Homo sapiens: one gene and its partners. The protein of the gene in region 2 purifies or fractionates together with the protein of the main gene of each other region. This does not show direct contact. Each region holds a gene or a part of one and is shown on either strand. Other genes may lie near its edges. The genes, in order: MTX2, SLC25A46, MTCH1, MTARC2, MTFR1, NCEH1 and PLD6.

Evidence for each region.
Region 1: the proteins of SLC25A46 (region 2) and MTX2 purify together in Homo sapiens (affinity purification with mass spectrometry, with the first as the bait; one large-scale study listed by BioGRID). This does not show direct contact.
Region 3: the proteins of SLC25A46 (region 2) and MTCH1 purify together in Homo sapiens (affinity purification with mass spectrometry, with the first as the bait; one large-scale study listed by BioGRID). This does not show direct contact.
Region 4: the proteins of SLC25A46 (region 2) and MTARC2 purify together in Homo sapiens (affinity purification with mass spectrometry, with the first as the bait; one large-scale study listed by BioGRID). This does not show direct contact.
Region 5: the proteins of SLC25A46 (region 2) and MTFR1 purify together in Homo sapiens (affinity purification with mass spectrometry, with the first as the bait; one large-scale study listed by BioGRID). This does not show direct contact.
Region 6: the proteins of SLC25A46 (region 2) and NCEH1 purify together in Homo sapiens (affinity purification with mass spectrometry; one large-scale study listed by BioGRID and IntAct). This does not show direct contact.
Region 7: the proteins of SLC25A46 (region 2) and PLD6 purify together in Homo sapiens (affinity purification with mass spectrometry, with the first as the bait; one large-scale study listed by BioGRID). This does not show direct contact.

The regions. Positions count from the first base shown.
Region 1 is NC_000002.12:176,267,985-176,272,241, forward strand, and holds the start of MTX2 (metaxin-2), read left to right. Parts: upstream 1-1,457; 5' UTR 1,458-1,645; coding exon 1,646-1,685; intron 1,686-2,229; exon of another isoform or gene 2,230-2,425; coding exon of another isoform or gene 2,426-2,435; intron 2,436-4,257. UniProt on the Homo sapiens protein: Involved in transport of proteins into the mitochondrion.
Region 2 is NC_000005.10:110,742,007-110,745,506, reverse strand, and holds part of SLC25A46 (mitochondrial outer membrane protein SLC25A46), read right to left. Parts: intron 3,461-3,500; coding exon 3,418-3,460; intron 1,778-3,417; coding exon 1,720-1,777; intron 1-1,719. UniProt on the Homo sapiens protein: Transmembrane protein of the mitochondrial outer membrane that controls mitochondrial organization.
Region 3 is NC_000006.12:36,972,697-36,976,196, forward strand, and holds part of MTCH1 (mitochondrial carrier homolog 1), read right to left. Parts: intron 3,022-3,500; coding exon 2,962-3,021; intron 101-2,961; coding exon 1-100.
Region 4 is NC_000001.11:220,754,822-220,758,321, reverse strand, and holds part of MTARC2 (mitochondrial amidoxime reducing component 2 isoform a precursor), read right to left. Parts: intron 3,376-3,500; coding exon 3,202-3,375; intron 3,192-3,201; exon of another isoform or gene 3,096-3,191; intron 1-3,095. UniProt on the Homo sapiens protein: Catalyzes the reduction of N-oxygenated molecules, acting as a counterpart of cytochrome P450 and flavin-containing monooxygenases in metabolic cycles.
Region 5 is NC_000008.11:65,651,234-65,654,733, forward strand, and holds part of MTFR1 (mitochondrial fission regulator 1 isoform 1 precursor), read left to right. Parts: intron 1-3,500. UniProt on the Homo sapiens protein: May play a role in mitochondrial aerobic respiration. May also regulate mitochondrial organization and fission.
Region 6 is NC_000003.12:172,634,568-172,638,067, forward strand, and holds part of NCEH1 (neutral cholesterol ester hydrolase 1), read right to left. Parts: intron 1,521-3,500; coding exon 1,349-1,520; intron 1-1,348.
Region 7 is NC_000017.11:17,200,495-17,203,333, forward strand, and holds the end of PLD6 (mitochondrial cardiolipin hydrolase), read right to left. Parts: intron 2,605-2,839; coding exon 2,273-2,604; coding exon of another isoform or gene 2,257-2,272; 3' UTR 501-2,256; downstream 1-500. UniProt on the Homo sapiens protein: Presents phospholipase and nuclease activities, depending on the different physiological conditions. Interaction with Mitoguardin (MIGA1 or MIGA2) affects the dimer conformation, facilitating the lipase activity over the nuclease activity.

The DNA of each region.
Region 1 (4,257 bases), on a different chromosome or scaffold from region 2:
AAAAAAAAAAAAAAAGAAAAGAAAAGAAAAGAAATCATGTTAAGATGAGGTCCTGCTGGATTAGGGTGGGGGTCCCTAACACAATGACTGGTGTTATTTCTCAAGAAGAGAGAAATTTGAACACATTGACACACAGGGGGAATGCCGTGTGATGTGGTGGCAGAGATTGGAGTGATGTATCTACAAGCCAAAGTACATGGAAGATTGCCGGCAACCCCCTTCTCTGGAGCCTTGCAAGACAGCATGGCCCTGCTGACACCTTGATTTCAGACTTCTAGCCTCCAGAATTGTGAGAATGAATTTCTGTTGTTTAGCCAACCAGTTTGTGGTAATCTGGCAGCTCTAGGAAACCAACCACGCTAGTTAAGGAGGCAGAATGAACAGTAATAGAGATCTACGGATATAAAGAATGGAAATATAGCTTTCTAAATGTCATGGACAGTAATTCTTAGAATACAGGTTTCCTCTGCAAAAACCTAGTAAGCTGTCTGACTTTTTGATTTACTGTGTGATTTAAAATGAGTTACCTCACCTCTCTGAACTTGTTTCTCATCAGTGAAGGGGGCTTTGGGTTACCAGCTCTGAAGCCTGTCCCACTTGTAATACCACCAATCTGTAATGCATATGATTTTTCTTTAATTGTGTAATTTAAGAAGCTATTAGGTTAAGACAAAGTTACTCAGGGAATTTAGTTTCTCCTCTTCCTGCCCCGTTCACCCCCGAAAGGTGAGAAGTGTGTGAAACTAAAGTATCTTATTCTCCAAGCTGAGCATCATTTCGGGTGTATGGAGTTGAAGGACAAATTACCTTCTGGCTTAGGCGCTGCTCAAGCCTCCTTTCTGCCAAGCATGTTTGAATAAACAACAACAACAAAAAACACTAATGTCTATCCACGGACTAATCAACCCAGCAATATAATGGAATAGAGGGAATTCATGCAGCCTTGAATCTGGTCCTTGGAGGACTGCCTGGGCAGGCAGTTTAAACTCCTTAAGCCTATATTCTTATCCGTAAAATGGCGATAATATTATTACTTTAATGGGTTGTTGAGAAGACGAAGTCAAATAGAATATATGTGTATATATATGTATATATGTGTATATATGTACATGTGTACATATATACGTGTATATATTATATATGTGTGTATGTGTGTGTGTATATATGTATATATGTGTGTGTAGATATAGGTATATAAGTGCCTGGTATCCAGTGGGCGTTTACAAATGTTACTCGGTTACAAAATTCTGGCTTACAGAAAGGACGCTAAAAATCTCCCAGATTCCCCTGCCAGTCCCCTGGGTGGGAGACGAGTCGGGTACTTCGCTTCCACCTGCGGGCCCCCAGCGCAGAGCCTGGAATTGGCTGGACGGAGCTAGCCGCGCCGGCGCCCCGTAGGACGGCGCGGGGGCGGGGCCGGCGGAAGCGCTCGAGTGCCGTTGTCGGCTGCGCCGGAAGTCCCTAGCCAGGCCTGGCGGTAACCTTGGGGGCCTCACTGCAGCCGCCGCTGCTGTTGGAGTGGGCTTTGCGAGTCTGAACGTTGGCGGGGCTAGGCTCGTTAACTGCCGAGAGCCTCCGGGTTTGCGGTGGAGGACGCTGAGGCCCGTGGGGGGCAGGCACCCGGGCGCCGGGCCTCCCAGCCGACATGTCTCTAGTGGCGGAAGCCTTCGTCTCCCAGATTGCAGGTAGCGCGGCTGGCCGCAGACCCAGAAGGTGGCGGCGCGGTCTCGGGGAGCCGCGTGGGGTACAGGGCTGGAGCTTTCCTCCAGCCTTGCGGCATTATACGCTGAACCCGGCCCGGATGGTGGAGGCGGGCACGGACTACCAACCTTATCTCACATATGGGAAAACTGAGAAGGAGACACTTGGCCAAGGTCACCCCGCAGGAGCAGGAGTCCCGTCTCCTTCCCTTGGGCGGTACTTTGTCCCACCTCCCCATTCAGTTGGGAGGTGCTGGAGTATGAGGGGGAGGCCTTGGATTGGGATTGAGGTGGGGGGCGTTACCACAGGGGCAAGCATCTGAACGCTTCAGTCTAAGAGTGGTGGCAGTTTCTGGGTCTTGGTACTCAAAAAGTTTAAGGTGACTGTCACTAATCAGTTGTTACCTATTGTTGAGGGAACACCAGACTTCTTGCTTCGTCTCCCAGCGACACAGTAGTGCCATTTGCTAAGACTCTAGGAGTTATTTATTTATTTATTTGTTGAGACGGAGTTTCTCTTTTGTCACCGAGGCTGGAGTGCAGTGGCACAACCTGGGCTCACTGCAACCTCCGCTTCCCGGGTTCAAGCGATTCTCCTGCCTTAGCCTCCCGAGTAGTTGGGATTACAGGCGCCCGCCACCACGCCCGCGCGGATTCATGGAAAATTTTTAAATCTGCATGTACTTTAAAGAAATACTTTTGAGTCGGTGGACTGAACATGACTGATGTATATAGGTTTGTAATTTCTCTTATTGAGGTTTTTATTTATTGTAATGAAAGAAATTAAATATTGTTGAGAAAGTGAGGAGACTAAACATAGGTACTTTGAGATAGAGGCTAATGGAATTAGTCATAACTCCCTAGCAGTGTTTTCAACATGAGTACAGTAATGAAGACAGTCACCACAATAAATAGGTACATTTGAAGTAATAAGATAGTATTTTGGAAATGGGAAGTACAGAATGTGTCATAAAATTTGCCGGAATGTTTTTCACTGCTTTGCGTTTGTGTGAACGTACATTTCTTTTTTTTCCTTCTTCACTTAAAAACATTATTTTTTAGAGGAGAGAAGCTCCTACTAGATTGCAAGCTTCCTGAAAGTAGGGATCAAACTTGTTTTGTTCCCCATTGTATCCATAGTCAGTTGGTGCTCAATAAATATTTGCGACCCAAATCAATGACTAATCTTGAGATTTCAAGCAATGATTATTTCTGCTTTTACCATTTATGTTGAAACAAAATCAGGCTTATATAGTTAGATCAGCGATTTAATTTAGTTTGCTACTATGTTGAAAAAAAAAACTTCACAGTGTATGTTGAGTGGTTCACTGTGTGCATGTGTCCTAATATGTGATTTCTTTTAATGAGAAAATGATGAATGTCTTTTAATAAACTTTGGATACTGCTTTAAGTAGTGACGTTTAAAAATTTCTAGGCATTTTGTCTGTCTGCCGTCTTAGCTATTTGTAGTGATCTGTTACTCTAGGAGGAAGCATTTAAAAATGGATAATTCAATAAATGGTGTTGGAACAACTACTAAGTCATTACACCACATGAATAAATTCCAGATTGATTAAAGATCTAAATATAAAACAACAAAATTGTAATAAAATAATTAGAGGAAAACATAGATTATTTTAATAATCCTTGGATAGCAGAAGAGGCCTAAGCAAAACTTAAGAATTCATAATCCATAAGAGAAGAAATTGGCAGATTTGATTGCCGAAAAAATTTTAAAACTTTGATAAAAGACATCTCAAGTTAGTACAAATAAGAAGACAAACCAACAGAATCAAGGACAAAGGATTGGAACAGGCATTTCACAAAAGGGTGAAATATAGATGGACAGTGAACAGATGAAAAGATGTTCTCTGTCCCTAATAATGTATAGCATCCTCCCACCCCTGCCATCAGATGGACAAAAGTGAATATGATTTCTAGTACTAATAGGGCATGGGGAAAAGTTACTCTCAAACTATTGGGTCTGTAAGTTAGTATTACTTTTTGGGAACGTAATGTAGCAATATTTATTAAAATGACATTCTCTGGCCTGAAAATTCTACTTATGGGGGTTTATCTGATAGAAATGTAAAGACCAGTACTTAAAGAAATACACAATGATATTAATTGCAGCATTATTTGTAATAGCGAAAAACTAGAAATGTTTTAAATATATGTCAAATTATTGTACACCAATCCACCAATTCCACTTCTGGGCATGTATCCAAAGGAATTGAAATTGTCTAAGAGGTATGTGCAGTCCCATGTTCATTGCAGCAGTATTCACAATAGCCAAGATATGGAAGCAACCCAGGTGTTTATCAGTGGATGAATGGATAAAGAAAATGTATATAAGATACAATGGAATACTATTCAGCCTTAAAAAAGAAGGAAACCCTATCATTTGTGATAAAATGGATGGATCTGGAGGACATTATGCTAAATGAAATAAGCTAGACATAGAAAGACAAGTAGTGATCTAAAATCTAATCTTTTTGGGGAAATCTAAGAAAGTTGATCTCCTAGAAACAGAATAGAAAGGTGGTTACCAGAGGCT
Region 2 (3,500 bases):
CTGAGGCGGGCGGATCATGAGGTCAGGAGATCGAGACCATCCTGGCTAACACGATGAAACCCCGTCTCTACTAAAAATACAAAAAATTAGCTGGGCACGGTGGCGGGCTCCTGTAGTCCCAGCTACTCGGGAGGCTGAGGCAGGAGAATGGCGTGAACCCAGGAGGCGGAGTTTGCAGTGAGCCGAGATCATGCCACTGCACTCCAGTTTGGGCAACAGAGCGAGACTCCGTCTCAAACAAACAAAAAAAAAAAGTGGGTTATAACAGAGTTTGCAAGTGGGGTCCACTGACTCCTGAGGGCCCCATTACCCTTTCAGGGGCTTGACAAGTTCAAAATTATTTTCCTAGTGATTACTAAGATATAATTTCCTTTTTTCACTGTCTTGACATTTTCACTAATGGTACAAAAGCAATGGTAGGTAAAACTCCCAGCTCATTAGCACAAATTGAGGCAGCACCATCAAACTGTATTTTCGTACTTACAGTAATTTTTCACCTCATTTACCCATAGAGAGAAAAAAGCAACCTTCATATAGTAATATCCTTGACAATGAAGTAACAAAATGTTAATTTTATGAATCCTTGACCTTTGAGTACACATCCTCTTTCTAATTAATATCCTGTGTGTTACATAAGGAAGTAAGATTGCTGTCATGAGGAAAGCACTTGTATGATAGAACTGCAAGCTAAACTAGCCACTTTTTTCACGGAACATCATTTTTACTTAGAAAAACTCATTGACGGACTATACCTATTCACTTTCAGGACAGACATATTTTAAAAAATAAACAAAGTGAGATTGTTGATTAAAACAAAAATAAATAACAGTATTTACTGTCAATGATAAGTTTGAATTTTCAACTAAAACTCAGAATTTTGGAAAATCTATATGCATCGTCAAGAGCTGACAATACTTATAGACTTTTCTAGTGAGATCAGTAGTATTTTTAATGAAGATGATTTTTTGATATTTTATAATCAAATGTTTTAACAACAGGAAGATCTATGTAACTCAATTGGTCAATATTTTTCAAATAACTTATGCACAATTACATGGAATCAGGCATAAGTAAAAATATCTATTCAAGATGCAGTATAGTTAAATGGATTTTTTAATGTAACAAAGTATAAAAAGTTCACTAAAATGATTTCTGATTTCACATTGCAAATAACCTTTAAGAAACTGCGACACAGTGAGTTTTGGTGCAATTGCAAAGAATACCCACAATTATCTCAAAAGAATATAATATACTCCTCTCCTGCTTTCAACTATACATGTGTACAAGACTAAACTTCCTTGCTTCTTTCAAAAACCACGTGATGCAACAGATTGACTGCAGAAGCATACGAGAGAAACTGGCTCTCTCCTATTATGTCAGATATTAAAGATATTTGCAAAAATGCAAAATAGTTACTTTCATAAAAACATATTATCTTACTAACAGGTGTTATTATTTTAATGAATTATATAGATGCATTGAAATTTTCCCAATTTTAATTTCTGAAATGGTAACTATCAATAGATATGACCAACATAAACCAAAGTTATTTAGGATCCTCAATATTTTTTTAAGACTTTAAAGAGGTTTTGAGACCAAAAAGTTTGGAACATTTCACATGAAGTAACAATTACCTGGTTTCATGTCATTTATGTGAGTTCTGCCCTTCATATTAGGGTCAGAAGTATTGCTTCAAAAGATCACAGAAATTACATTTACCTGACATTGGCGGCGTAGAACAATGCAAGGATGTGCCAATACATTTTCTGTAAAGAGACTATATAAAAATAATTTATGTATATGTATGTCTACATAGAGATAAATTAAATTTACAACAGGTATCTTTCTGAAATTATTCTTGCCTGAAGAATCATGCATTATTTTATGTTTTCCATTCTTAAACAAATTAAATAGATCTTTAAAAATGTCTAGAAATGTTTGCAAATGATTCTACCCATAACGAAATTCAATATGAAAAGAATGAAAACCAGATCTGCATACTAGTAAATAAGGGAAACAATACATAATACATAATATTAATGTCTATAGTATAAGATGAAACTAGATCTCTGAATGTTTAATGTGGGAAATGGCACATCAATTAAATGGCATTTAATGCTGCAAATTATTTCTTTCAGAAAATGTCCTAATAACAGAATTCCTATCAGCAGAGTCATTTGATCTTCATGAACCCCATTCTAAAAATGTTTGGTTTTGGTGCACTTAAATTATAAGGTTTAAGTATAAATTTAAGTATAAATCTTAAATTATAAGATTCTTAATGACCATGTTAATTGACTAATATTTATGTATCAAATATTTATTTTGAGAATGTGCCCCACAAAACAATTACAGCTGTGGGTTTCAGGTCTCAGAGTGACATATACATACATGTGCACACATATTTATATGTAATAATAGTCTATCAAATGAATCAAAGCTTTAAGTATAAATATTGAAGCAAAAAACAACTCCAGCAGAATGGAAAACACAGATTTTATTTATATTGACATTAACACCCTCGGGTTTAATTATGCAAATAAGGTGTTTTTCTTCGTTAAAATGTTTAAAATAATGATCATTATGGCATGAAATGTAAGCTTTGTGCAATTCCAATATTTTTGAAAATGGTATTCACTAAGGATCACAATAATCAAGACTAAAGGATTTTCTTAAAATGATCGTTAGATATAAAAAAAAGTAATGCTATCACCAAACGCTGATTATGAACAAAATCTAGATGCTATGTTGCTAAATATCTTGTAAGCATTAGAGTGTTTAGAAAGAAGCCTCCATGCACAATTACTTTTTTGATGGGAGACAGACAGATTACATTTCATTTTATTCTTTGGATAGACCCATGAAAAGAATGAAAACCAGATCTGCAAACAGGTAAGTAAGGGAAACAATATATAATACACAATATTAATATCTACGGTATAAAATGAAACTAGATCACTGTATGTTTGATGTGGGAAATGACACGTCAGTTACATGGCATCATTAAATGCCATGTAATTTTTCTTTCAGAAAATGTCCTATGAAAAAAGTTCTTATCAGCAGAGCCATTTGATCTTCATGAACCCCATTCTAAATTATTATTTTGATGGGAGAGAGATAAGATTACACTTCATTTTATTTTTTGGATAGACCCATGAAAACAGTTACAATACTCATTACAAAATTACTTTGTGTTTATAAAATTGGATGACTAGTCTATCCTTACTGGAAAAACTATCAAATTATATATTTTAAATAATGGTCATTTTTTTTCTGCAAAATATTATTCAAAATTTAAGCTGCTGCTTCAAAGAAACAACCTAAAGGAAGCAATAATAATCATTTAATATTGTAAATTAAAGAAAAACTCTAAATTCAATAAATAAAAGCTGTAAACGTCTTTAGATAAAACATTACCTTGCAAGTCCAATACCAAATCCAGCAAATCTATTCAGCTGTTCTAAAGTAAAAAAAAATAGAAATAAAAAAATAAGATTACT
Region 3 (3,500 bases), on a different chromosome or scaffold from region 2:
ACTCACGCTGTCATCCACCAGGTAGGCATTGATGAAGTGGGCCAGCAGGTTACAGCCCCACAAGAAAACCACATCGCCCAGGAGGTGAGGGATTAATCCACTAAAAAACAAGGTAAGCAGAGATGAGCAGGAGAGGGAGAGGAGCAGTTCCTGGGGGCTCCACACCCAGGAAGCAGGCAGGGATGTTCCGAGCTCAAAATCTTAGCATATCCAATGGCACAGCCTTAGAAAGGAGGCCTGCAGGGTCCAGCAGCTATGCACACTGGGAAGATAGTGCTCCTTTTCCCATGGGGAGGTGTTCTATGCCGCTTTGGATGCCATAAATTAGCTAATAGTCTCAAGCAGTTTTCAAACCACAGAAGCCAGGGATCAAGATGTGAATACTGCCAAATTTGGAATTTCCAAATGCAGATAATAAGAGTGCCGACGTGTTGGTAATTTTCTCCTGGCCTCTTTACCTAACCAACTCTCAGAAGACACACTGCTCAATGCATCTGTTCTCTTTGCCCCTGAAAATATTCTATCAAAAAGATTCTATGCAAGCATTTACAAGGAGGGCTAACTTTTTAAGTGATGGCCTTTAGGATAAACAGCTCTATAAACTGCTAAGGAAGGTTCCCCAAGATGCAGTGCTGAGGGCAAAAGGCCAGTTTGAGGTCAGTGAGTCCCATGTGCCTCTTGTGTTTTTTACAATGTGTTTGCTTGTTTAGGTACAGAGTGCCCTGGGAGGCTCGCCAGGAGAAGGATGGCTGTCTCCTGGGAGGAGAAGCAGAATTTTTGTTTTTGAATTAAAAAAAAAAATCTTATATTTGAAAAACTCAAAAGAATATATGTAATACATCTATGAAGAGTATTAATAAAAGGAACCTCTGTGAATGCAATTTCTAATCTTGTCGTCCCTGCCTGTGCTCAGATTGACTTTGTGCTATACCCTTTGGTGCTTTCTATGCACTGTAACATGTATGAGTATCACCTGTTCCAAAATCACATGGGGAGAAAGAACCCAAAGAGTAGGCATCTGTTGTGCGGGAATCCTATTCAAACACCAGAAGAGAACTACGCAGTGTGAAAAATGCCAGAGGTGGTCATGTGCAGTGTTTCAAGATGGGTGGCTGTTTCTGTAGAGCAGCCATTGGCTGGGGTCCCGGGGCTGCCCCTTTGGCAGGGCACATGGTCCCTGAGGGCCACAGATGCCCTGCACTTTGTCACCTCACATCCAACTTACTTCACCTCTAAAGAAAGCACATACTGAAAAGACTATGTTCAGAAAGAATAAAGCACAGACAGAACCCAGAAGCCAGGCTTGATGAGTTGTTTTTTGACTTGCTGTTTTAAGGTCTAGGCGGTGACATACATGCTGATAGGTATGTCACAAATGTTGGTTTGTTACCAGGTACATGTGCAAATATATGTATGTATAAATACTTACACATACATATATGTGTGTGTGTGAATATAAATCAGAGTTTCTCAACCTTGGCACTATTGACATTTTGGGCTGAATAATTTTTTTTTTCCCCAAGAGACAGGGTCTCACTCTATCACCCAGGCTGGAGTGCAGTGGTGCAATCATAGCTCACTGCAGTCTCCAACTCCTGGGCTCAAGCCATCCTCCCACCTCAGCCTCCCGGGTAGCTAGGACTACAGGTGCATGCCGCCACGGCCAACTAATTTTTAAAAACATTTTTGTAGAGACAGAAGTCTCACTATGTTGCTCAGGCTGGTCTTGAACTCCTGGCCTCAAGTAATCCTCCCGCCTTGGTCTCCTGACAGCTGCAGAAACCACTGAGACTAATCCCAACTAACTGGGATCACAGATGCAAGCAACGACACCTGACTGAATAAGTCTTTGTTGCGGGGCTGTCCTGTGTACTGTAGGATGTTTAGCAGCGTCTCTGGCCTCTACCCACTAGATGCCAGTTGTGACAACCACAAGATGTCTCCGGACACTGCCGATGTTCCCCGGGGAGCAAAATCACCTCCTGCTGAGAACCGTATATATATTTCTATATCATATACACACACATGCACCTACAAGTAGTCACTAATTGGTTAAACAAGGGGCCATAAATAAAAAACATCTCACAAACCGGAAAACCATGATATAAAGACTTCTTATGAATAATATGGAGCCCTGTATCTAGTACAGCGGATACTGTTGTATACCATGTGTCTACCACGTTTGTGACATACTTATCAGCATGTATGTCACTGCCTAGACCTTAAAACGGCAAATCAAAATACAACTCATCAAGCCTGGCTTCTGTCTGCACCTTATTCTTTCTGAACTTAGTCTTTTCAGTATGTGCTTTCTTTAGAGGTGAAGTACACTGGATGTGACGTGACGAAGTACAGGGTGTCTGCGGCCCTCGGAGACCATGTGCCCTGCCAAAGAAGCAGGTCCTGGGTCCTGGCCGATGGATGCTCTACAGAAAGAACCGCTCAGCAGGACAAGATTTTCTGGCTTTTCAAGAGATGCCAGACATGTGGATTTTTGTGCAACATATCTTAAATGTTAACGGCAACAACTAATTTGTCAGAAAAGCAATGTCAAACAGAATCCACTGGCTGTGGTCAGCCTGTGAGCTTCCAGAGCTCCACCCTCAGTCCAAGTCAGATTTTCAGTCATGTTTTAGCAGTGAGGCCAAGGACTATGCAGTGACTTAGCTCATGAAGACCAGCCCCACACCCACCACAACTGGATGAGGCCCAGTGGGGCTGGTCAGTTCATCTCCCCCATGTACTAGACACACAGTTCCACTTTTACATGAGCCATGGCCTGAAAAGGGCTAAGCAGCTTGGACACGCTATGGAGCTCTGGAGAGCTGGCTGCAGCACTCAGGCTAGGGCAGGGCCATGTAGTGAAGTCCCAGGCCAGCAGCTGCGGTCTGAGAGGTTGAGGACACACCTGTTAGCAGAGCCATGCCCGTGGCCAGTTATGGGGTGTATAAACTCACGTACACGAAGAATCCCAGCAGCCCTTCCTCTTTGAAAATCTTCCCAATGGAGCTCAGCACACCACTGTGAAGAAGGCAAGACAGAGATACAGGGTCATGCAGTCACCTACCAGAAGCCCACCCGTTGGTGTGGGGCTGAGCCCACCAGTTCTGCTCAAATCCAGCCAGTCCTGGCAGGGATGGGGAGGACTATTACCATGAAGAACCAAGTAGAAAGGCAAAGAGCGCTTGTTCAGGGTGAGGAGGAGTTTACACAGTTCATGGAGACTGGGGAAGCCCAACCACCCATGGGAGCAGCCCACTAGCAGTCCTCTACTGGTGTTTTCTGGGAGATAGGAGTTTAGGAATGCATCTCCTAACTTGGGCCACTGCTGCAGAGGCGGCAGGCCCTTCTCTTACCCGGCCCTCACACTTATCTCTGGTTAAACAACCCTCTAGCAGAGGAGCCCACAGGCCCGCCCAAGAGTAAGAGTAGGAGGGGGTAGTAAGCAAAGAGAAGTACTTTCCCAGAGGGCAGAGAAAGAATACAGGGCCCTGCAGGAG
Region 4 (3,500 bases), on a different chromosome or scaffold from region 2:
ATTCAAAACACTAACAGTGAAAGTTTAAAAAAAATAAGTGGCCGGGCGTGGTGGCTCATGCCTGTAATCCCTGCACTTTGGGAAGCCGAGGCGGGTGGATCACAAGGTCAGGAGATCGAGACCATGGTAGCCAACATGGTGAAATCCCGTCTCTGCTAAAAATACAAAAATTAGCTGGGCGTGGTGGCGTGCGCCTGTAGTCCCAGCTACTCAGGAGGCTGAGGCAGGAGAATCACTTGAACCCAGGAGGCAGAGGTTACAGCGAGTTGAGATCGCGCCACTGCACTCCAGCCCGGGTGACAGAGCGAGACTCCATCTCAAAAATAATAATAATAATAAAATAAAATAAGTGTAGAATAATATAAAATTCATAACACTTCAGCCTTGTCCAAATGTCTGTGAAGGGACTTTTCTTTTTACTAACTTGAGGTTGTTGGTTTATGTTATTTGATTCTGGGCTCTGGTGGGCTGGCTGTGGTAATCACTCTGTCGCTTACCATCTGTTAGGGGCTAAATGTTTGTGTCTCCCCAGAATTCCTTTGTTGACACCCTCACCCCCAATGTGGGGCCTATGGGAGGTAATTAGGGTTAGATGAGGTGGAGCCCTCATGCTGGGATTGGCACCCTTATAAGAGGAAGAAACACAAGATTGCTTTCTCTCTTCATGCAGGCACCAGGGAAGGTCATGTGAGGACATAACGAGAAGTGGCCATCTACAGCCCTGAAAAGGGACCTCACCAATCTACCAGCACCTCGATCTTAGACTTCCCATCCTCCCAAACTATGAGAAATAAATGTCAGTTGTTTAAGCCACCCAGACTATGGTATTTTGTCACAGCAGCTGGCACTAGCTAAACACACTATCTATGTTATTTCTTCAGTTTTTAGCAGTTCCCTTGGCAACGAATCCATTAAAAATAGCTTATAAATACAGGCTGAACTAGTTACAGCATGTCTAACCAGCTAGAGAGGGCAGTGCGCTGACTACACCTCTGCATCAATCCAAATGCACAGCTCTCAATCATTTTCACCAAACTGCCAGGGTTCCAGGCTCTCTATTCCCACCTCATCCAGATCTACAATTCATGCATGGAACAGAATTACATAAGAAGAGGCTTCAGGCTGAGCACGGTGGCTCATGCCTGCAATCCCAGAAGTCTGGGAGGCCAAGGCAGGTGGATCACCTGAGGTCAGGAGTTCGAAACCAGCCTGGCCAACATGGTGAAACCCCATTTCTACTAAAAATACAAAATTAGCTGGGCGTCATGGCACATGCCTCTAATCCCAGCTACTCAGGAGGCTGGGGCAGGAGAATCGCTTGAACCTGGGAGGTGGAGGTTGCAGTGAGCCAAGATCGTGCCATTGCACTCCAGGCTGGGCAACAAGAGCAAAACTCCGTCTCAAAAAATAAATAAATAAAAAAGAATAGGCTGCAATTGCTGTCTTTTTCAGACCCAGGCAACTCACCTGCAAGGTCTTCCTCTTTCCCTCTTTCCATCCAGGAAGGTGAGTGTCCCCCTAGATTTCTGCCTATTTAGCTGGTAAAGAGCCTTGGGGGAAAAACTTGCTCACTGTTGGCAACACAGTGAGTCTACAGGGCAACACCTATATTACTCATGTGACACATGTCAGCTACGTATTTACCCATCACCTTCACATGTCTTCCAATTAAGCCGAGATGGCTACACACTTCCTCTTCAATGAACTGATGGGCTCAAAACCTGTCATTTATGGAAAAGCTTTTCTTCTCCCTACACAAACACGTTAAAGGCAAAAGCCTTAGGAGGGAAGTGGGTTCAAATCCCAGCTCTGTGTTTTCGTGGCAGTGATCTAAGACGTGGTTTCCTCGTTTGTAAAGTGGAATTAATGACCCCCTCATGGGCTTGCTAAGATAATTACCTGAAATACTGAATTCAGTGAATTATTGCTTCAGACTTTTGAAAATTGGGAACCATGAGTTGTGGATTTCAGCTTAGACGCTTTGCTTGAAAAAGCGTAAGATGAGAGTTCACGGAGTAATCTGAGGCTCCCCTCTGAGCCCTGGGACAACACCAACTTCCACACACTTAACAAGCTCAGTTGGTGACAAGGGATCCAGTTCATCCCATGACAAGCATCTAAGTCTTCTTAATGTGGAAGGACAAGACCCCAGCAAACCACGGAACTTGACAACCCAACAGAAGTCCCATAGGCCAAAAGGAAGCCAAGGCCTGAGGTGTGTCTTTGGCCAGAAGTGGAAATCCCTTACACCCAAGGAATATGTCTTCATCTCAACCACACACTTCAGAGGCCGCAGAGTCAACTTGAAAAGCTCTGGAAGCTCCAGCATCCTTCTCACCCAGCCCTGAGATACAGCTGCTAAAGTCTCCACTAACTCCCTTGTCTGCCTGGTTGGAGAGTTGACAATTCTGAATGAAGATTTGAATGAAAGGAGAAAAGCCCTAAAGATGAGCACATTGTACCACCTTTATACTTGTAGTAATCCTGCTTTTAATTTTCTGCATGTTTTACGCTTTGACATCTTGGAGCCTTGTTGACACTGAAGAAACTGCTTCTTCCAGGGCTGACCAATTCCTAGAAATAATAGACTGATGACCTGCAAGTGTGCCTGTAATAGGAACACCAACCCATCCAGAGTCTGCACTCCCAGTCACCTCCTTTATTTGGTGCTTACATGCCGGGCCACTAGTCCCATGCCCTAGTCAACCCTAGAGCCAAGTACCAGACAACCTGTGACCCAGAGCCTGCTGAAATTGTTCAAACTAGCCAGCCCTAAGCCTGCCGCCCCTGCCTTGCTTCTCCTTTCCTGTGGAAACCACAATAAAAGCCCTTGCCCACATGTTCCCCCTGCTCCCTCTGCCTCCTGACCCACCCTGGTACTCCCCCACTTGGCCTTGCGTGGCGTAGCGTGCCTCCAGTTTCTAGAGAATCTGTTGGTATAACATCTTCTTTTTTCAGGACAGTCATTTCTATGTCTGCGTGTCTAACCATACCTGATTAAAACAAATCCTAGGTACCCTGAAAACAATACCCTGCATCATCCACTCATGCCCAATCCCAACTCAAACTGCACTTCTCTTAAATGTTTCCTTTACCAATGTCATCCTCTACTGTAGAAACTATAGCAAGACAGAATGCAAGGAGGAGCCTGAAGAGAAACCAAGCCTGTTGCAGTTCTGTGGATGCCCCCAAGCGGAACACCTGCAGTTGTGGAGTTTGTTTGAGGAAGGCTGCTTGCTAGGCAAAACCAGCTGGTCCATGTCTGGAGCCCTGAAGATCAGGCAGTTATTCTCATAAATGATGGAGATGAGCACGAGGCGAGGCTCCTGTCGGGCAGTGACCATGTGTCCATCTTCCTTAATCACCAGCCAAAACCTGCAGAGAAACAAACCAGGGCACACTCAGAAAATCCTCTTCCACCTCCCAACAGCTTCCCTCCAGCTTTCTACTTCCTCAGAACTCTCCACCCACCCCGTCTTGGGACCTAACAATCATTTTCC
Region 5 (3,500 bases), on a different chromosome or scaffold from region 2:
GTTCTGTGGGTTGTCTCTTCAGTTTATTGATTATTTCATTTGCTATGCAGAAGCTTTTTGACTTGATGTGATCTCATTTGTCCTTTTTTTGCTTTGATTGCCTAATACCCCATGTGGGGTGCTATTCAAGAAATCATTGCCCAGACCAATGTCCTGGAGAGTTTCCCCCAGTGTTTTCTTGCAGTAGTTTCATAGTTTGAGGTCTTAGATTTAAGTCTTTAATCCATTTTGATTTGATTTTTGTATATGGCAAGAGATGGGTTGTAGTTTCATTCTTCGGTATGTGGATATCCAGTTTTCCCAGCACCATTTATTGAAGAGACTGTCTTTTCCCAATGTATGTTCTTGGCACCTTTGTTAAAAATGAGTTTACTGTAGACCTATGGATTGATTTCTGGGTTCTCTACTCTGTTCCATTGGTCTATGTGTCTGTTTTTATGCTACGACCATGTTGTCTCGGTTACTATAGCCCTGTAGTATAATTTGAAGTCCAGTTTTTTTCTTTTTGCTCAGGATAGCTTTGGCTATCCTGGGTCTTTTGTGGTTCCATATAAATTTTAGGATTATGTTTTCTATTTCTGTGAAGAATGTCATTGATATTTTGATAGACATTTTGATAGATATTTCATTGAATCTGTAGATTGCTTTGGGTGGTATGGACCTTTTAACAATATTGACTTTTCCAGTTCATGAACATGGAATATTTTTTCCTTGTGTGTGCCCCCTTTAATTTTTTTTTTTTTCAGACAAGGTTTTGCTCTATCATCCAGGCCGGAGTGCAGCGGCATGATCACAGCTCATGGGCTCAGGAGGCCCTCCTGCCTCAGCCTCCCATGTAGTTGGGACTACAGGCACATGCCACCATGCCTGGCTAATTTTTTTTTGAGACGAAGTCCCACTCTGTCGCCCGGGCTGGAGTCTGGGGTGCAGTGGTGCTATCTCAGCTCACTCCAACCTCTGCCTCCCAGGTTCAAGCAACTCTCGTACCTCAACCTCCCAAGTAGCTGGGATTACAGGTGTGCATTACCACACCCGGCAAATTTTGTATTTTTTAGTACAAAAATATAGGCTGGTCTCAAACTCCTGGCCTCAAGTGATCCTCCTGCCTCTGCCTCCACCTCCCAAAGTGCTGGGATTACAGCTGTGAGCCATCATATCTAGCCCTTAATTTTTTGTTTTTTTGTAGAGGTGGGTCTCCCTATGTTATCCAGGCTGGTCTCAAACTCCTGAGCTCAAGTGATCCTCCTGCTTTGGCCTCCCAAGGTGCTGGGATTACAGGCATGAGCCACCACCCTGACCCTCTTAAATTGCTTTTGAGTTTTCATTGTAGATATCTTTCACTTTGATTTCACTTTGGTTAATTCCTAGGTATTTAATTTTATTTGTGGCTATTGTAAATGGGATTAATTTATTGATTTGTTTTTCAGATTGTTCACTGTTGGCATATAGAAATGCTACTGAGTTTTGGATGTTGACTTTGCATCATGTAACTTTACTGAATTTATCAGTTCTAATAGTTTTTTGGTAGAGTCTTTAGGTTTTTCCAAATACAAGATTACATCATCTGTAAACAAGGATAATTTGACTTCTTCCTTTCCTATTTGGATGTCCTTTATTTCTTTCTCTTGCCTGATTGCTCTAGCTAGGACTTTTTACTATGCCATTTTATATAAGGCACTTGAGCATCTGTAGATTTTGGTGTCCATGGGATTCCTGGAACCAATCCCCTGTGGATACTGAAGGACAAGTGTATAATGTGTACAGGCAGGAGGGTAAACTGCTTTCCTAAAGAGATGATTTTAGGTGGAACAAGAATCAACTTTGTATTTATTTTAGTCAAGATATCCTTTTCTGTCTGTTTTGGCTCAGATAGGGAGTACAATGTATAGTTAAGTACTTTAAAGTATATCCTGGAACAAACTTTGATTGCATCAGTATTATTGCTTGGCATGAGGCTAAGTTTATTTAATTTTTAAAAAATGAGTTTATTTAAGATCGAGCACAGTGGCACACGCCTGTAATCCCAGCACTTTGGGAGGCCGAGGTGGGTGGATCACCTCGATCACCAGGCAGTTCGAGACCAGCCTGACCAGTGTGGTGAAACTCCGTCTCTACAAAAAATACAAAAATTAGCTGGGCGTGGTGGTCTGCACCTGTAATCCCAGCTTCTCGGGAGGCTGAGGCCCAAGAATCGCTTGACCCCGGGAGGTGGAGGTTGCAGTTAGCTGTTATCGTGCCACTGCACTCCAGCCTGGGCAACAGAGCAAGGCTCTGTCTCAAAAAATAAAAATAAGAAAGAAAGAAAAAAACAGTTAATTTAAATTAAAACATTAAGAGCATCCAGATATGACAAAACTCATAAACCAAGTATGAAGGTTTGAAGTTGAGAAATACTAGTATAGCCTGTAAGGGTTCCCAAAGTTTATATATTGCTAATGTTTATTATTTACTTAGATGGTCCAAATTAGAATAATTTTTATGTTTTTACTTTTTAGATTTCAGTTATTTAATTTAGAAAATGTTACTAGTCTTTAAAAATTACAAAAGTAGGCTGGGTATGGTGGCTCATGCCTGTAATCCCAGCAATTTGGGAGGCTAAGGTGGGAGAATCACTTGAAGCCAGGAGTTTGAGACCAGCCTGGGCAACATAGTGAGACCCCATCTCTACAAAAAAGTATAAAGTTAGCTGGATGTGATGATATGCCTATAGTCCTAGCTACTTGGGAGGCTGAAGCAGGAGGATCACTTGAGCCCGGGAGCTTAGGGCTGCAGTGAGCTCTGATGGTGCCATTGCACTCCAGCCTGGGTGACAGAGTGAGACTTTGTCTCTCAAAAAAAAAAAAAAAAAAGGAAAATCACAAAAGTAGTACATGTATCCTATTGGGGGGAAAGAAAACATACAAACAATACAGGAGTGCATAAGTGTATAATAAAAGTGGAGGGTCTCACCACCAAGCCCTCAGATATAGTAAGTGTTAAGTTTTGGTAAGTTTTCAGATCTTTCCTCTATTTCACCACTGTTTCTGTTACTTTATTGTTTTTTAGTTATTTTTAATGGAATTAATATGTATTTGTAACTTTTTTCATTCAGCATTTTATTATGAAAATTGTTTCATGTATGGCTCTATCTTTTTTGTTTTAATGGCTGTAAACTTAGAATGGGCATATTTAATTTATTGAATTAATTTTAACCATTTCCCTATTGATGGTCATTTAGATTACCTTTGGATTTTCTCTTTCACAGTAATGTTTCAGTGAATACCCTTGCCAGCTTTCAAAAACTAAACATCTTTCTCCTTGGAGAAAGGTATAATTTACTGAGTTCTTCCATTAAAGCAATTTTTTTGTGTGTTGTGTTGTGTTTGAGACAGTTTCACTCTGTTACCCAGAGTGGAGTACAGTGGCGCACTGATAGCTCATTGTAACCTCAAATTCCTGGGCTCAAGCGATCCTTCTGCCTCAGCCTCCTGAGTAGCTAGGACTACAGGTGCATACCACTG
Region 6 (3,500 bases), on a different chromosome or scaffold from region 2:
GGTGAGCATCTTCACGCTTGGTGAGACAGAATTTAAATAGTTCTGGCAATGCACCCTCCATTCTACATAATGAGCATATGCCAGAGTGAAGTTGTCATGGGAATGTGAATGAATCCCCTACCTCAACAGATCTCAGTCCCCCAACACCTCCCCACAGTGTTAACATTGCCCCATTTTGTAATTCTAGTGTGCAAAATTATATATTTGTCGTGTAACATCTAAAAGAAAGCTAACTAGTCATGAAGCTTCATAGACAACTAAATGATCTTCAAGGTAACTTTAGCCATACACTTCTGCTTCATACTTGGACTTTAGAAACCCATTCCCAGGTGAGATATGACTGCTCTCCAAAAGCAAGAATGGTCAGTAAATAGCACTTTGAATATGTGCCAAAAATTGTATACACATCACCTCACTAAGTCCTTGCAACAGCCCTGCAATCAGATGACACTGTCCTCGTTTTTCTGAGGCTCAGAGAGGTTAAGGGACTTATCCAGGGCCCCGCAGCACTCAACGGTGGGTCCTGGGTTAGATCCCAGTGCTGTCTGGCTTCAAAGCCAAGAATGTTCTCTCCACTGAGCCAAGACTCTCTTCTGACCATATTTGGATGGAAAACTTGCCAATGCCAAATGGAAAATCAAGTTCTTGAATTATAGCAAAAGAGTTAGAAGCCAAGGTACATCATAATTAGAATGACAGATGGTATTTGAGGACACCAAATGAAATTTGGAGGTGAGAAGACAAAGATGTCTTAAGTTACTTCATCCATAACAGGAAGAAAATGTGCTTTTTCCCACTTGCCAAAAAAATTGGGGTGCTATTAGAAGCTAGATATAGTTTTCAAAGAATTAAACCAGGTAAAGCTCATAGTAACTTGTAAGATAATATTTAAATGGCTGAATCGTTTAATTTCTTTCTTTTACATTAAAAAAAAGTTGGGGAAACAAATTTTAAGGTTTTAATTTGGCTCAAAGTTGTAAGGAACAATCTTAGGAACTGGAATTTAAGCAAAAATACTCCGATTTGCAAGTCAAACATGAAAAAGGAGCAGGGGATACTGGAGTTCCATACATAGCCCTGAGAAGCAAGGGATGTCAGCCCTTCTCTAACACTGACTGTAATCAGGGACTTTACAAAGACTCATAGGTGATACTTCCTCCAATGACTCATCTTCCTACTTCAACGAGATCTCTGAGAGCTCTACAAGTGTAATCACATGAACAATTTGGCCATCTAGTGACCGGCCCACCCAGCTATGCATTTGCCACACATAATGGAGGGTGTGTTGGTCTGCTAGACCTTGTCATGCACCGCTTAACCCACCAGCACCTTAGGACAGTGGTGTTACCTGTTGTCCAAGGGCAGCAGCCAGATTTCCACCAGCACTGTCACCAGAAATGCAAATTCTGCCTGGATCAACCATATACTTCTGTAAGACTTCTGGCTTCAGGAAATACTTTGTGGCCCGTACAACATCATGAATTTGCTCAGGAAAATAAACCTTTGGAACTAGCCTGTATCTGTAAAAACAAAAGTTGTATTCATTTAAGGCCTTCTCCAATTTTGGGGGACATTTAAAGTTTAGATGGAAACTGGTTCTTTTAAATCTGGAAATAGATAAGAAATTAATTCAATGGAATTATTGTATGAAAAAGAAAAAATAATAAAATATAAAAATAAACCATTTTCTTGCAAATCAAATACTTAGTTTAAAATGTGATGATTTTGTATTAGTAATAGTACTATTTTTCTTTAAACTATCAGCCACCAAACCAAACCTACTTACCACCAAGAACAACCAAAATAAAACTAACAAGTAAAAGGCGAATGTTCATTACAAAGACATGGATAGCACCGTAATAGATTTTAGAATTTTATTTCTGGAAGTCAGCATTCCATTCATAATGCCTCTGGGTTACGAGGTGACTTGGCAGGATTAACCACTTCATTGATCTCACATTTAATGAGTCCATCATTTACTTCATATAATAAAACTGTACTTCACTGGAGAGGTCCATATTAGCCTGACATTAAACCCAAGAAATGCATTCAATACCTGGAAGACTGTAACTAAAAGGCCGGTTGTTAACTCACAAAAGGGAAGCTAAGTTTTCCAGACGGCCTAGAGCAGGCCCTCGGGGATACTTCTGGGGCTTCTCCAACTGGCCCCACTTCGCAAGATCAGAGTCCTTTGGAATCCTACTCTGTACACCTAGTAGAATTCATATCCCCTTAAGATTCCCAGAAAGCTCTGGTTTTGTCAAATGCCTCACCCATAGTGTTATCTTACACATCTACATTGGCAATCTTGGTTTAGAGTTCCCTCTCACTCTCTACTCCCCTCTTTTGCTTATTAATTCTCACTCATCCTTTAAGCCTTAACTGGAGGGTTTGGCCTCCTCTGGGCAGCCTTCCTTGGTCATATCTCCACTTGCTTTTGGGCTTGAACTGGCTACCATTCCTTGATATTTCTATGTGCCAGGGTACGTCACTCACTGTTCTTATTGGCTCATATGAAAATTATCATATGTTTTTCCTAAAGATTGTGTTCTCTGATATCAGGAACTGTGTTTTATTCATAACTGTGCTTCCAGTATCTGCCAATGTGAGGGGCACATAATCATCCATCCAATAAATCTTTTTTGAGTATTAACATACCTTCATTTTGCAAACGAAGAAACTAAGGCATACAAAAGTTACTTGATTTGCAAAAACTCAAAAACAGACCAAAATTAGGTAGGATAAAAACTAATTACCTAATTAAAAATTAATAACAGCCAATGAAGACTCAAGACTTTTGATTTCCATCTTATAATTAGCATACTTATTTTCACAAACTAATTTTTTCTAAGCTACTCTAAATAAAGACATTTATTTTCCACAGTCTAAAATCCAGCTAGTTGGGCTGAGAGCGGTGGCTCACACCTGTAATCCCAGCACTTTGGGAGGCTGAGGCAGGTGGATCACTTGAGATCAGGAATTCAAGACCAGCCTGGCCAACATGGTGAAACCCCATCTCTACTAAAAATACAAAAAAAGGGCCAGGTGCGGTGGCTTAGGTCTGTAATCCCAGCACTTTGGGAGGCAGAGGCAGTCAGATCACCTGAGGTCAGGAGTTCGAGACCAGCCTGACCAACATGGTGAAAACCCGTTTCTACTAAAAATACAAAAATTAGCCAGGCACGGTCGTGGGCGCCTGTAATCCCAACTACTCAGGAGGCTGAGGCAGGAAAATCACTTGAACCCAGGAGGCGGAGGTTGCAGTGAGCCGAGATGGTGCCACTGCACTCCAGCCTGGGTGACAGAGCAAGACTCCATCTCAAAAAAAAAATAGCCGGGCATGGTGGTATGCACCTGTAATCCCAGCTAGTTGGGAGGCTGAGGCCTGAGAATCACTTGAACCCAGGAAGTGGAAGTTGCAGTGAGCTGAGATCGAAAGAACAAGACCTGGGCGAAAGAGCAAGACCCTGTCTCAAAATAAAATCCTGCTAGGTAATTAA
Region 7 (2,839 bases), on a different chromosome or scaffold from region 2:
TCTTGCTGCATTTTGTTACAGCCCACAGTGCATTGCAATCTTAGTCTGCTTAGGGGCTCTTCAAGTATTTGACTTATGACCTAAGTAGCTAGGCCAGCTGGTAGGAAGAGACAAAGCGAGCTATTTTGCAGGCCAGTAAACTTTCATTTTAAACTTTTTTGGTTCGGGTGAGGGCAACCAAGGAAGGGGGAAGGGGGCAGGCGGGGAAGCCGATAAGGCATCGGCTAGCCTGAGGGGCCTAGTACAACCCGTTTCTTCCGTAGTTTGCTGACCGAAGCCGATTCAAGGCACTTTGTCTTAAAAATGGACCACCGTATACCTTATTTCCTTCACCCAAATAACAGCTTAAAGTTTTACTCCTCTTTGAGTCTCCTGTTCTTTGACCAACAGTTTCTAAATAGCTGTATACTGCCCCCCCCCGCAAAATTATATTTAACAAAGAGGAGCCCCTACTTGAATGATTTAGCAGCAAGCTAAGGCAAAGACACCCAGCGCTCACATTCCAGAATAAGAACATGTTTATTCAGATGTGCCAGAAGTCCAGGGTCACGCGGCTTCGCATTTAGGAGATGCTTTACAAGCTCTCCCATTTTCTTTTCAGAACATACACTGGGGGAATTCACAAACTAAAACAATTTCTGGTGACTTCCAATCTATATATTATACTTTACAGCTTCAATTGAATTTTTTTAAAAGTTAACTTCCAAGCTGGCTTGCCTAACACTGTGAGTCAAAAGTAACCCTAAAAAGGAAAAACACACAGCACTGAAGGGTCTCTGGGTGGTAATGCCAGCGTGGGCTGGGGAGGTGAGACTAAGCACATGGCTAGCAGACCTCAGGATGGGCCCTGGGGCTCATCATACAGAAATATGACAAGATGATGAAGTCACAACTTCAGATGTCATCGGAGCTATCTGTATATGACACACACATTATAAACAAATAACCTGGAACATTTCACAGTGTACGACACCTGTTCTACCTGGGAATGCAAACCCTGAGCTGCAAATAAGAACACAGACGTGGGAGACACCACGGCCTGAAGCTGCTCTCCTCTTCCCCGCTCTCCTCTCCTCCGGTCCCGTGATGGGTTACGCTGAGCCAGCAATGTGCACGCACTAACTCCACAGGTGTTAAAGGTAAGGTCACTTCTAAACACACAACAAAATTACCTTAACATTAGGACATTAAAAGTTAAAAGCCCGGCCGGGCATGGCGGCTCACACCTGTAATCCCAGCACTTTGGGAGGCGGAAGTGGTGGATCACTTGAGGTCAGGAGTTTGAGACCAGCCTAACCAACATGGTGAAACCCTGTCTCTACTAAAAATACCAAAAAAAAAATCAGCCAGGTGTTGTGGCAGGCACCTGTAATCCCAGCTACTCGGGAGGCTGAGGCAGGACAATCGTTTGAACCCAGGAGGCAGAGGATGCAGTGAGCCGAGGTTGTGCCACTGCACTCCAGCCTGGGCCACAGAGTGAGACTCCATCTCAAAAAAGATAAATAAATAAATAAATAAAATAAAAAAAGTTAAAAGCCCAACATAGAAACAGCTGCTGGCCATCAGTCCTGACAGACCACAGCACTTACTACCCAAGGACAGGCTGCTGAAGAGCTTGGCACTGGCGTGCATACTGGTTTTAAAGAGCAATTATGCAAGGAATCAAGGGAACAGCCAGCCTTTGGTGGCAATGACGCTCACGGGGTTGCCCCGAAGGCTGCTTTTGCCACCCGCACCGCACACTCACATCTTCCCTTCCTCCTGACTTCCATTTCCTTTCCTTACTCTGAGGACCGAGCCCTGACAGGGGCAGACTGTGAGGGACAAGGAGACTGTAGGCCCCAACCAACCCCAGTCGTGCCACATGGAGAGAGGGATGAAATCTCAGGGAGATGCTGAAAGGGCCCACATCAGCCAAAGCAGGAGGGACTTTTCTAGAATCAGGGAAGGGAATGGGATCGACCTGGAAGAGGCACTGTGCCTTTTCTGTGCTGTAGCAGAAGTTTCGATTCCAAACCAAGATACGGACCACACTCATGAAAGCACCCCGTGGCAGGTCGTGACTGAAGTTATTTTGGCAAAGGAGCAAGAAAAAGGTCTGGCCCGAAATAACTGACCCGAAGTAACAGAAATTTCCCTTTCCTAACCTTCTTTAGTTCAATTTAGTATTCTAATAGACGAGACTTTAGTTTAACGATTTTTTTCTAGTGCCGAGGTCTCCCTCCCTCAGAACGCACAGCAGCCCGCAGGGAGGGCTCAGCCCCATTCTTGGTTAGGTTTGGCTTTCGCTGGAGGTGCCGCAAGTTCTGTGCCATGAAAGCAATCTCCCTCCAGCTCTGGAGACAGGTGGGGCACAGCTTCCGTGACTTTTCTTTGGTGGGAAAAAGGTATACTTTGTAGGGTTAAACTGTTCCCAGATGCGCTCAAATTCTTCCAGAAAAAGCCGCACGTACTCGTCGTCCTCCGTGATGAGAACATTCTCCCTGTTGTTCTGGATGGCTTGCGTGGTCCAGTTGAGCGAGCCAGTGATGAGCACCCTCTTGTCCACGATGGCAAACTTGTGATGCATGTAGCCTGGGTCTTGATCGTGCCGGACCTGGATCCCTGCAGAAAGGACAAGGTGATTTCATTCCATGCAGGAGTCCCGCCCCCAGTGTGGACTGTTCCTGGGGGCTACTGGCTTTACTATATGTTTCCAGTTTGGTGGGCCAGGAAAGCCCGCCATGCTTTCACAGAGTGGTGGCGGCTAAGCTCCCAGGAGGGACGCTGAGAACCACAGAGGGGACATCACACACAGGGCCAGAGCGTCACACACAGGCTATGGGGGACTGGGCAGGCC